2 linked regions of the Homo sapiens genome follow. The protein of the gene in region 1 purifies or fractionates together with the protein of each later gene. This does not show direct contact. Each region holds a gene or a part of one and is shown on either strand. Other genes may lie near its edges.

Evidence for each region.
Region 2: the proteins of TMEM59 (region 1) and B3GNT2 purify together in Homo sapiens (affinity purification with mass spectrometry; 2 studies listed by BioGRID and IntAct, with this or other methods). This does not show direct contact.

What each region holds. Positions count from the first base shown.
Region 1 is NC_000001.11:54,050,205-54,057,968, forward strand, and holds the start of TMEM59 (transmembrane protein 59 isoform 2 precursor), read right to left. Parts: upstream 3,001-7,764; 5' UTR 2,985-3,000; coding exon 2,796-2,984; intron 1-2,795. Other genes in the region: TCEANC2 (transcription elongation factor A N-terminal and central domain-containing protein 2), read left to right, coding at 4,219-4,320.
Region 2 is NC_000002.12:62,220,076-62,225,231, reverse strand, and holds the end of B3GNT2 (N-acetyllactosaminide beta-1,3-N-acetylglucosaminyltransferase 2), read right to left. Parts: intron 3,021-5,156; 5' UTR 3,012-3,020; coding exon 1,818-3,011; 3' UTR 501-1,817; downstream 1-500. UniProt on the Homo sapiens protein: Beta-1,3-N-acetylglucosaminyltransferase involved in the synthesis of poly-N-acetyllactosamine. Catalyzes the initiation and elongation of poly-N-acetyllactosamine chains. Shows a marked preference for Gal(beta1-4)Glc(NAc)-based acceptors.

The DNA of each region.
Region 1 (7,764 bases):
AACCTCCACCGCCCGGGTTCCAGCGGTTCTCCTGACTCAGCCTCCTGAGTAGCTGGGATCACAAGCGTGCGCCATGTTCGGCTAATTTTTGTATTTTTAGTAGAGATGGGGTTTCACCATGTTGGTCAGGCTGATCTTGAACTCCTGACCACCCAGGATCCACTCGCCTCGGCCTCCCAAACTGCTGGAATTACAGGCGTGAGCCACCGCGCCCAGCCTAAAACGAGATTTCTATCTCGTTTTTCAAACGCTATGTGAGTTTGAAAATTCATCTAATTTCTTACAATACACAGTGCTTTTTCCTGGAGCACAAAGCACAGAGGAGAGCCAATAGAAATCAGTGACATAATTAAATATGTTTCTTTTTTTTTTTTTTGATGCAGAGTTTCCCTCTTGTCGCCCAGGCTGGAGTGCGGTGGCGCGGGCTCACTGCAACCTCTGTCTCCCGGGTTCAGGCGCTTCTCCTGCCTCAGCCTCCTGAGTAGCTGGGATTACAGGCGCCCGCCACCACGACTGGCTAAATTTTTTTGTATTTTTAGTAGAGACAGGGTTTCACCATGTTGGCCAGGCTGGTCTTGAACTCCTGACCTGAGGTGATCCACCCGCCTCAGCTTCCCAAAGTGCTGGGATTACAGGAGTGAGCCACCGCGCCCGGCATTTTTTTATTTTTATTTTTTTGAGACACGGTCTCATTCTCAGACTGGCGTGCACTGGCGACATTTCGGCTCACTGCGACCTGCGCCTCCCAGGCTCAAGCAAGCCTCCCACCGAGTAGCTGGGACTACAGGTGCTCGTCTCCATGCCTGGCTAGTTTTTTTGTTTTTCTTTTTTCCAGAGACGGGGTCTTGCCATGTTGTCCAGGCTGGTCTCAATCTCCTGAGCTGAGGTGATCCACCCACCTCGGCCTCCCAAAGTGCTGGGATTACAAGCGTGAGCCATCGCACCCGGCCGAATATGTTTAATGCAAGTTTATTAATAGGAGGCAGCATAGTGTAGCCAGTTTTAAGCTGAATTCCTGCTCCACTATTTCTTGGGTATGTGACCTTAGGCAAGTCACTTAACCTTTCAGAGCCTCAATTTCCTTAATTTTAAAACCCTACTTTACAGGGTTGTTGTGAGAATTAGGGATAATGGTATGATAAATCTCCCATCACTCTGGCTAACAGTGGAGTCTATATAAATTTCAAGTCCAGGACCTATAGGGAGCCAGATGATTTGGAGTTCTTTGTGAGAAAAGCTTTAATAAATAAGTAAAAATAGTTTATAGATATAACACCAATTGTTAGAAAATAGTGGACATTATTAAAGTACCTACAACTTCCAGGAAGGTATCCTTTCAAATTATTTGATTATTTTCCCAACATTCTGGTTTATACCACAAAATTGCCGAGAAAATCCCAAAAAAGGAAACAAACCCTAGAACAATAGAAAGTAAGTCTCAACCCAATTCCAGGCCAAATCAATATTAATGAGCTTCTTCATACAATCCTCTTAATGATGAGAAGTTTACAAGAGGTGGAGAAAAATAACGTGGTTAGAAGCAGTATTCATTGATTTAAGTCTGAAGTTAAAACTTCTCACTTCTTTCTCGATTGTTACATAAATCTCTGGAAAAATTTAGTACAGTCCCTTCTCCCACACTTTTTTTTGAAAATTGATAATCTCCATGCAGTTTAAAATCCAGCCGTAACAAAATCTGAGAAGTGCCGGCACTTAGAACTTTTCATTTCAAAGACCTGAAAATACTCGCCAATATGGAACATCCTAAGCTTCACTGGAACTGTCTCCGTAGCCACTCCAGTTTTAGAGAGCAAGGAGGTCCAGCCACAATGGTTAAGCAAATAGCATAGAGGAGATGAAGGAAAAACGAAGAGGAAACCACCAGCAACATCAACAAAAGCTCTCATAAAACAACGTGGGGGAGGGCATATACTCAAATCATACATGGGAAAGGTGTGGTGGGAATCATCAAGCAATTTAGAATGTTGAGTAAACAGAGTTCTTAGGCTGAAAAACCAACGTGAAGAGGGTTAGGTATGTAATTAAAAGAAAGGGGGGAAGCATAGAGAGGAGGGCCATTCCTCTCTGTAAGCTGCGAACCCCCTCCTGTCCACAGTCTCATTTCTTCACCCACTCCACGAATTCCCCGTTTTCTGCACTGAGTGGTCAGTTTCTGGTAGGCAGACACCTAATTGCCTCTTCTCTAACCCAGTCCCTCTTGGCAGCGTCTTGGACACAGTAACTCAACATAGGCAGACAGCATTCCTGAGCGTCTCGCTACTCCCTGAGCTGCCTTCGTGACGCTTTTTATACCACAGTGGAATCGTCTACTTGTCTGACTCCCCGAAGACTGCGCTCCTGGCCCCGAGAGGCGCTTAGTAAACAAGGGTTATCAATCAATCATTTGTGGACTCGCGTATCTGCGCCTCCCTTTCTACAATCCCCCCTTACGCTCCCTTAGGTGAGGACCCCGCATTAATCATCCATATCCTCCCCTATCCTCCTCCGAGTGCTCGACTCCCCTGCAGCCCGGCAAGCTCCCAGAGGAAAGGGATCGCGTCTTTCTCATCTTTGTGTCCCCCAGCCTATCACAGGGTAGTGCAGGACAAACTTCCGGTAATGACAGCAGAAATGGGGTGCAGGCAGGATTAGGGAGGAAAACAGGAGCTACACAGATGGGAGACAGCGATTGAAGGGCCGATTTAACAGCCAGGTTGCCAGAGCCGACATACGTGTGGGGAGCCGAGAAATGGGCTGCAAGGGAAGGGTCGCAGCCCGCTCCGGACGGGCCCTACCTTAGGGTAGGTGTGCAAGGGGTAGGTCAACTGACAGGCCCGGTGGCAAGACGCCGTATCACCCAAGACCGAGTCAAATGCTTCAGCCGAAGCGGTCCCCGAACCTCCGGCCAAGGCCATGGTCAGCAGCAGCAGCGGCGGGAGCCCCAGTTGGGTCCTCACCCAGAGGCTCCCCTTCGGCGCCGCCATCTTGTTCCCCTCTGTCACAGCAGCTCAGCTTGTTGCTGTTTTCTCGGAAGGGTTTCCTCCTCCTCCTGGGGCCAGCCCCCTTCTCCGCCCCACCGACCGTTGCTTCCGCCTCCGCTGTCACTTCAGCTCCGCCCTCACCCGCCAGAAACTGCCGCCTCCTGCCTCACCTCTGGGACTACGAACTTCTTCTCCTAGGCTGGCGTGAGGAGGGGAATTCAACCATCGCAAGCGTTAGCGCGAAGCGGGGCCTCCTGACTTCTTCCCTTCGCGGGGCAGGCTGGGGCATGTAGTTCTCCGTAGGCGGGAGGCGCACGGTGCTGTCGGGAAAGTTGGTCTCGGAAAACTACAGCCGCCCTCAGCGCGCCTTCCGCCCGCATTTCTTCGCAGTGCATTCTGGGGAATGTGGTTCGCTGTGGCCCAGAGGCGCGAGGGCCGGCGGAGTTTCTTCAGAGGAACTACCGCCCTGGGAGGAAGCGTCTGTTTAGTTTCAACACAGACGACTGGGCTTGGGAGCCTACGAGGTTGCAGTCTGGAGGGCGCCAACAGCAGCTACCAGGGCTGCTTTTCCTGGTGGGTCTCACGTCAGACCGTTGTTGGGTGCCCCTACCCGGGCTCCTGAGTGCTGGGAACGAGGAGGATGGGGTTTCTCCTTGTTCGGGGATCCAGAGATTACAGCCGTGGGTAGGGTCCTCTGACCACCGAGCAGTTTGTTCTAGGGGATGCTGCGTATTGTGAGACCCTCTGCTGAGTTCTGGAGGTGGTTGTCGGTTGCTGATTACCAGGGCAACCCTTGGGATTATGGCTGTGGTGAGGTGGTTGTTAAGAGGGCGTCACTGAGCCTAATGTAATCCTAACCCTTTCACAGCCCAATCTTATTTGGAAGAGGGCTTAGGTGCACGCTCTAGCGGGGATTCCAATATTGGGCCAATTCCCCCAATGTTGGAATCCTCGCTAGAGCGTGCACTTCTGGAAGCTAGGAACCTCCTAACTCAGGACGTAGACTGATGATTGATTACAGTTTCAATTCTTCGGAAGATCTTTCTTTTAAAGAGAAAATCTTACTTCCTGTCAATTCCACTCGAGGCCCCATAATTCATGAATTCTTCCAGAGAACTCAATTGTGTTACTTTGGGGAAAAAATATCATGGCAGTCTTTAGTGGGGTTTTAGAATCTGCCCTCTTTCTTGACCAGAACACGCTGCAAGCACGTCAAGGTAGTCGGAGTCCCCTAACAATGGATAAATTCGTCATTCGAACGCCTAGAATCCAGAATAGCCCTCAGAAGAAAGATTCTGGAGGAAAGGTTTACAAGCAGGCCACGATTGAATCTCTGAAGGTGAGAGGGGATCTGGGGCTAGAGGAAATGTGCAAAGGACTGATAGCAAGGTGGTGCTAGAGGTTCTGTTGTGGAAAGACCTATGAATTATTTCTTGTTATGCCTCCTCCTCAAAGTGTACCTGACCACTCCTCCTTTGTTTCGCCCATAGCTGTACAGACTTACATTTATAAATTTCTGCACACCCCTGCTACACCCTTGTAATTACTCCGGTTTACACCATGTGTGCTAGCTCGTAGGACAAGTCCCCTTCGTTGTTATTCTTTTGCAAAATGTAGTCTGTTAGGAATGTTAAAGTACCAAATATGATTCTATATACCTACCCTGTACAAACTTATTAAGGGGTGGGCTTTGATGCTGTTCTCTCACATCTGTCACACTGCCCAGAACTGTATCAAACAGCTTTACAGCTTCAGCTGAGACTGGGAAAGAGGCTGTTTTTTTGTTGTCGTTGTTGTTGTTTTTGTTTTTCAGACAGGGTCTCACTCTGTCACCCAGACTGCAGTACAGTGGCACGATCTTGACTCACTGCAACCTCCACCTCCCGGCTTCATATGATCCTCCTGCCTCAGCCTCCCAAGTAGCTGGGATTACAGATGCCTGGCTATTTTTTGTTTTTAGTAGAGATGGGGTTTCACCATGTTGGCCAGGCTGGTCTTGAACTCCTGACCTCAAAATGATCCACCCGCCTCTTGTCTCCCAAAGTGCTGAGATTACAGGCATGAGCCACTGTGCCCAGCTGGAAAGAGGCTGTTTTAATGAGCTCTTGCTACATTGAAGTCAGTCTGATGTCTGCAAGCAAGATGCAAAGAGTAGATACAATGTATCAATCAACATAGTTACCCAATAAATGCTAAAGTAATTATTTTACTAAAACAAAACAAAACAACTTGTACTTAGTCCCCTTTGTCATCCTGAACCTTGCCTCTTAAATTTCTGACTTTTTCATTTTCTTTTACCAATTCTTCTTCCTCCACTAGGTTCCTAATGTTTGTTCTCCTCAGAGTTCTGTCACATTTTATGTATTTGGCCAGGATGACATTATCCATTCTTTAGGCTTTCTGTGCTAAAACTGCCAAACCTGCACCTCCAGCCTAGGTTTCAGAAGGTGGGAGGAGGATCTGGGGCTAGAGAAAATGTGCAAAGGATTGTAAGAGCAAGGCAGCATTCTGAGTACTTGACATATACTCAATTGGACTCCTTTTCTGGATGTCCCACAGGCTTAGGAGACCCATATTGGAAAGCAGTGAAGGAGAGTATAAACAGGCCTTACTGGTAACTGGGTGATCTTTAGTAGCAAGTCAGTCCCTTCTCTAAGACCTCAGTTTCCTCATCTATAAAACGTGGAGATTGAACTATATCAGTGTTTCTTCAAGGGGTGCTATTGTTGTATGGGGCAAGATAATTCTTCATTATTTGGAGCTGCTGGTGGTTTACAGGATACTTAGCATCCCTGGCTCTCAGGCACTTAATGCCAATGGCACCTCCCATTCTGATAACTGAAAATGCCTTCTCATTTTTCCAGACAGCACTTGATTGAGCCCTACCAAACTCTAGATGATCTTTAAAGTCTGTCCTAGTCTTGCAGTTCTGTGACTGCATAGAACACATTCAAGGTTTTCAACTGTCTCTACCTTGTCAGAATATTCATGGATAATTGTACATAGCAATGATTCTCAATGAGGGATCATGTCAGACTCTCTCCAGGAAAAAGGTGGGAAGGAATAGTTGAACTACATATACACTCACCTACACCTACAAACACCCATATTCTTTTCTTTTCTTTTCTTTTCTTTTTTTTTGAGACGGAGTTTTGCACTGTCGCCCCGGCTGGAGGGCAATGGTGGGATCTTGGCTCACTGCAACCTCTGCCTCCCTGCAACCTCTGCCTCCCTGGTTCATGCGAGTCTCCTGCCTCAGCCTCCCGAGTGGTGGGGATTACAGGTGCCCGCCACCACGCCTGGCTAATTTTTTGTATTTTTAGTAGAGATGGGGTTTCACTATGTTGGCCAGGCTGGTCTCGAACTCCTGACCTCATGATCTGCCCACCTCGGCCTCCCAAAGTGCTGGGATTACAGGCGTGAGCCACGGCACCTGGCCCAAACACCCATATTCTAATATACCTCCTCCTACCGCTCTCCCCTCTGGGTTCCTGCTCGTGCCCTAGTTGAAAATCACTATGTGTGATGATGAAAATAAATGATGTGAAAATTATGGAATAAGAATAAAACAACAGGCTGGACTCAGTGGCTCATGCCTGTAATCCTAGCACATTGGGAGGCCAAGGCAGATGGATCACCTGAGCCCAGGAGTCCGAGATCAGCCTGGGCAGCTTGGCAAAACCCCATCTCTACAAAAAATACAAAAGTTAGCTGGGTATGGTGGGGAGCGCCTGTAGTCACAGCTACTTGGGAGGCTGAGCTGGGAGGATTGCTTGAACCTGGGAGCTGGAGGTTGCAGTGAGCCAGGATGGTACCACTGCACTGCAACCTGGGTGACAAAGTGAGACACCATTTAAAAAAAAAAAAAGAATAAAACAAAAGGCATATTTAATAACATTCCCCTTAAATGCATTAGCTTTTCTTCCAAACCTCTTCCTTGTTCTCCTGTATTAATGTATATCCGTATACCAAGTAACTGGGACTAGAAATCTAGGAACCATCCTTAACTCTTTTTTCTCATATCCAATTTTCTTTTTTCTTTGTTTTTTTTTTTTTTTTAGGGTCTCGCTCTGTCACCCAGGCTGGAATGCAGTGATGTGATCATGGGACTATGATCACATCATAGCTGGGACTATAGGCACATGCCACCACACCTGGCTAATTTTTTTTTTTTTTTTTTTTTTTTGTAGAGACAGGATTTCATCATGTTGTCCAGTCTGGTCTTGAACTTCTGGGCTCAAGCTATCTGCCCTCCTTGGCCTCCTGAAGTGCTGGGATTACAGGCATGAGCCACTACGCCTGGCCCCAATTTTTAGTTTTACTTCCTAAAAATCCTTCTTGCCCATACTCACTTGATTGTCTTCCACTTTAAGTTCAGAATCATACTTCTCATCTAGAGCAGTGCTATGGTCTGTTGACTTGTCTCCCTGCCTTTGACATCCCGCATTCACCTCCCTTCCACTCTTACACCAGAGAAATATGTCTCAAATAGAAAAGAAAATCTACTCAGGTCACTTTCCTGCCTAATCCTTCAATAATTTCTCATTACCCATCAATAAAGATCACAGTTTTTTACATGACACCCAAGGCCTTCCATGACCTGGCGCCTGCCTGCCTCATCCCCTGCTAGTCTTTTTATTTATGCCTCATCCAATGTCAACCATTCACAATTCCCCAAAGATGTTGTGCTCTTTCCTTCCTCTGTGCCTTTGCATATACTGTCCTGTTTGCCTGGAATTCCCTTACTATCTTGTCTTGGAGGCAATATAATGCAATAATTAAG
Region 2 (5,156 bases), on another chromosome or scaffold:
CATACTTGCTCAGAAATGGCTTCCACATTCCAAACAGGATTAGACTGTTTGCTCTTACAACACTAACCCTTCTGTTTTTTGAGCTTCATCAATTGTCTACTTGTTTCCCACTGGACGTTAGTAGTGTCTTCTCAACATGGGTCTATGAAAGGAAATTGAGTAGTCAAGGCTGATTCTATATTTCATCTTTGTGGCTACAAACTCCAAAATAGAAATGGCTTAGGATAACACAATCTTTACAATGCCACACCACTCCCTAATTAAATTATTTATACTCACTGAAAATGGAAGCATAAATAAATATTCTCACTTTTCTTTAAAGACTTTAAATGGGAAAGCACTTTGGGGATTTTAAATGCAAAGATGGATGACGCACTGAGAGACAGTGATAGTTCAACACTACTGTAATGGTTTCTGGGGAGGAAACTGGCCTCTTTCAGGGAAAAATGTTCTCAAATATGGGAAACAAAAGGATTATAGATTACACATTACACAAAAAATTAAAAATACAGTGGCTTTATTTCCATTGTTTATAGTCCCCAGTATCCCATCTGATAAGAACCTTCAATTCTATAAACAAAAATATTTCAAGAAAGTATGTTACACAATAGTACATATAAGTAATAGTTTGGCAGAATTTTAAACTCTAGTAGTTCATACCCCCAAAAAACAAATTTTAAAATTCAAAAATAACAGTTTTATTTAACATATGTTACACCTTAACATTTAAAATATCATGCTCTAGTTAAATATTTCATCAACAACACTGTATACAAATAAAATATTACATAAAATATATTTAAGAAAATGTTTTGGTCTTTGATCTGAACAATAAATAAAAACACAGGCACTTCTACATAGACAGGGAAGCAGTTACTACTCAATAATAATCTTGTATAAGCAGCATGTGAAAATATGGCAATAATAAATTCTGGAATTTTAAATTGACAAACCATCTATGCAAAAGTCTGTAACTTCAACCTTTTCACTCAAGTTCAAAATACATATGCCTTCCTGGTCCATATTGAAAATTCACTAACACGATATGGTTGTTAGCGGCAATTCAATCTTCAGTTGGCCATTAAGGAATCACACTGATTTTCAAATACTAAAATTACACTATGATACCACCAGGAAACCAAATACAAGAAAAATTAAACCCTCTTTCTCCTTATTATGACCATAACATCACAACAAGATAAATTAGATGAGTGTCACACCATGATTCTCATTTTGCAAAATTAATTAACACACAAAAATACTGTTGGGGTGGCAGGAAATTTCCACAATTGAAAAACTGAATTCCACAACTGACAACTGAAATTTCAGTTTTCTAGACAATTTAAAATTTACCCAAATCCCATAAAAATAAACATAATTCCATTTCACGAAAACCACTGGATAATGTTTAACAAAGTCTTTGTAGCCAATAGGTTTATAAATACCTGAATTACAAATAAATCAGTCATTATTATGGGAAGTAGGAATATTATAGAAGAGGGCAAACAAAATCACTTAAAATGGCCAAATTCCAGAAACAGGATTTCAGATAAGAGGGTACAAGTTTTTTAAAAATGACCACTAGCCGGTAAGATCAGAACCAATCATCCTGCCATATCATCCATAAAAAAAAATTACCATCTTCCGCTTTCCCTCTTCACGTGAGTACCAAATTGAAGGGTTTAGAGGCCCTCAAATGGGTATCACTCATAAAGGCAATTTTCATGGTTTAATATAGAAATTACTCTAATGTGAGAACACAACATGGGAACTATTCAAAATACACCTTTCTATGCAAAATTGAGTTTGTATCTATTTTAGCATTTTAAATGAGCACTCTGCAACTGAGACCAAATATCAATCATCTCTTGAGGTTTTCTACTATGTACTAACATCAGATCTACATAGGAGCAGATGTTATTTTTGTTTTTCTCCTCGATATCAAATGTCCTGAAGCCTTTGTGTTTCTCTGGAACGAGGCCGAGTTTCTGAAGGCACATTCCAGTATAAACGTCATCAATGGGGTAGAGATGGACCTGGTCAGTGATATGGTACAGCCTCAGGGCCAGGTGGCCGGAGTAGAGGAACCCCCCTCCCCCTGCATAGGGTGGGTAGAGGCCAGAGTAAACAACTTCTGGGATGTAGTACTTCAGCTTCTTATCCCGATGAGGTCCAGCATTGTGGATCACATCACCTATGAAGAGATCTTTGGCTTTGGTCTTGGATAAACTATTCAAGTAATTCAGGATGTGATGGGTGTTCACAAAAACATCGTCATCGCCCTTGAAAACAAACTCAGTGTCTGGGCAGGAAGTACTTACCCACCTGAGAAACAGCACTTCCTTCAGAGACAAGTTGAAGAAAGTGTCTCTGTAGTTCCACATAAGAATGTCTTGGTGCTTCTCACTCTCAAATTTCAGCATATCTGAAAGGTCGGGGTGGTTGTCCTCTGGGGGTGTCTGGCCCAGCAGGAAGACTCGCACCACCGTTTGGTTCCCTGCGTTGCTTTCTTGGCCCCAGGATTCCCGGATTGCTTGCCTTCTGGCAAAATGTGGAGTGAGGGACTTAATCGCCAGCAACAAGAAAGGTTTCTTTGCACACTTATCCGGCTGATCTATAAGCAGTGAATAATTGCGGCATCTCAAATACAGCAGAAAGTCTTTAAATCTGTCCGGCAAGTTGTTAAAACCCGTAACCACCGACGTGACCCTCAGGTCAGGTTCGCAGTAGTTCAGATGGCTTATATTGGAGAGCCTGCCCGCCTCCCCCGTCTGGTTGGTCAGCATGCTCAGGATGGGGTTGTACTGCCGGTTCAGCTTCTCTTGCTCTCGGTTCCAGTATGCCTCGGGAGGGGTAGATATCTTCCAGAACTTCTCTTTGGGTATTATTACTTCCCCTTTTCCATTTTTTTCTTGGCTACTGCTTTTGGAGACTTCCATAATAAAATAAATGAAGACATTTGCCATCATCAGGATACCCAACAACTTTATTCTTCGACGTCCAACACTCATTTCTCATATCTGGAATAAAGGGGTGGAGTATTGTATCAATTACTTATCAATTTGCATTTGCACATACAATTTATTTTACCTGTCTCCCCAGGAATAGTGGTTTACAGCAAAGACTCTACACTTGCACTGCCTAGGTTCAAATCTTGGCCCTTCCTTTCTAGCTTTGTGATCATGGGCAAGTGGGATAGTCCCTGTCTCAACTTCTCCATATATAAAATGGGAATCAAGCCCACTTCAAAGGATGGTTGTGAGTATATGATGTTATATGGAAAGCTTTTAAAATAGCGCGTGGCTCACAGCAAGCACTATGTAAGTGACTGTTTGAGACATGCTGAAGCTAGAAATACCTATTACTAAATAACCTCAGGAGAGTTCAACTTCCTTGCTTACAATGGCACATACAGTGCTTGGCAAACCGATTTGCCTAAATTATAACAAATACATTTTTATACTGTGTTTAGTATACACATACATACACAAAACTCTATTTACATGTGTGACGCATTGTGTGCAGTTCCATGTCATTCACTCTCAAGTTCTCTTCTATTTCATTTGAAAAACTTTGAGATTTTAAAATGTAGAAACAGGGACTGGTTACGTTGCTCAGGCTGGGCTCAAACTCCCAACCTAAGGTGATCCTCCCACCTCAGCCTCCCAAAGTGCTGGGATTATAGGCATGTCTGACCCTATCTCTCTCTCTTTTTTTTAATGTTAGTCCCAACCCTGAGTTATTTTCCAACCTACCATTTTACAGATAAGGAAACCAAAGCAGAGAGATTAAGACACTTGCCCAAGGTTGCAGGGCTAGGAAGCAGGAGACAGGAACCACAGAGCATCTCAGACAGAGAAAATGAAAGCAGACTCAGGACAGCTTTATCCCAATAGCCAAGAACTGGCAACAGCCCAATATCAACAGAACAGATGATCAAACTGTGGCATCTGCATACAATGGTATATCCCCTCGGCAATAGAAAGGGAAACTATTGTGGATGAAACATTACAACATTACATTGTGAATGAAGGCCAGACCCAAATTTTCATTTATATTAACTTCAAGAACAGGCAAAATGAATTTAGGTTCTAGAAATCTGAAAGTGATGGAGGTGGTGGGCTTAGAGAAGGATAGGAAGGAACTTCCTGGGGTACAGAAATGTACCATGTAGGTCTTGATCCTGATGAAGGCTCCACGGATGTATGCATATGTCAAACCTGAAGTGTATATTTAAGATCTCTATTGTTTGTAGCAAAAAGGGAAATACAAATGATATTTTAGTGAAATATCAAAAGATTTCAGGCTGTGGGCAATGGAAGAATAAAGAATGAGTAATGAGATGGTTTGCTGGGGATATCCAAGGTTCTAACACTATTGACATGGATGACCTATACAAGAATGAACATTTAAACCAAGGTGACATTAAAAGATAGCCCAAAAAAGTGGGATGGCAATGTTCTATAAAGAGCTGAAGATTTTCTTATCAGGTTAATTCAACTGGGAATTTATCCTTAGGTACTATTACTCATTCCCATTTTATACCTGAGGAGGTACACATTTAAAGAAGGGCAGACTGGAATACCAGCCAAGGCAAACAGATTCCAAGTCTGTACCATGCCAAAAGGTAGCTACACTTCTCCAATCCCTAAAAGAAAGCTTTGCAACTATTTTAATCTAGTATTTGCTTTTTGAAAGGAGAGGATTTTTAAGTTCACTGGATTCTAACAAACGGTAAAGTAGAAAAATATTTGTCATGCTGAGAATGCTGTAAAACTATTACATATTAGAGAGCCCAGATGAGATCAACAGGAATTCACAAGCTATTGTGTGTCTGTAAAGATCTGCCTAGTAGACCTTTATCTGGTTGCTTGTATTTACTACTGCTGAAACCACCTTTGCAAAGATTATGGACAGTAAGAAATCTAGCATGGCTGACTCCATCTTGCGTCTACCCTCACAGGCTAGCTGTCTCCACTCATTCCTGGGCATAGGCCAAGCTAACCACGGGAGAAATTTAGTTTACAGTTTAACTTCGAAGCAAAGATGGTAACAGTCCCTCCATAAAACTGATCCCTTCCTTGTTCAGGGGGCTGAGGCTAATGAAAGGTCACAAGATTAGGATTGAGAGGGGCCTGAATTCTGCTAAAATGTAA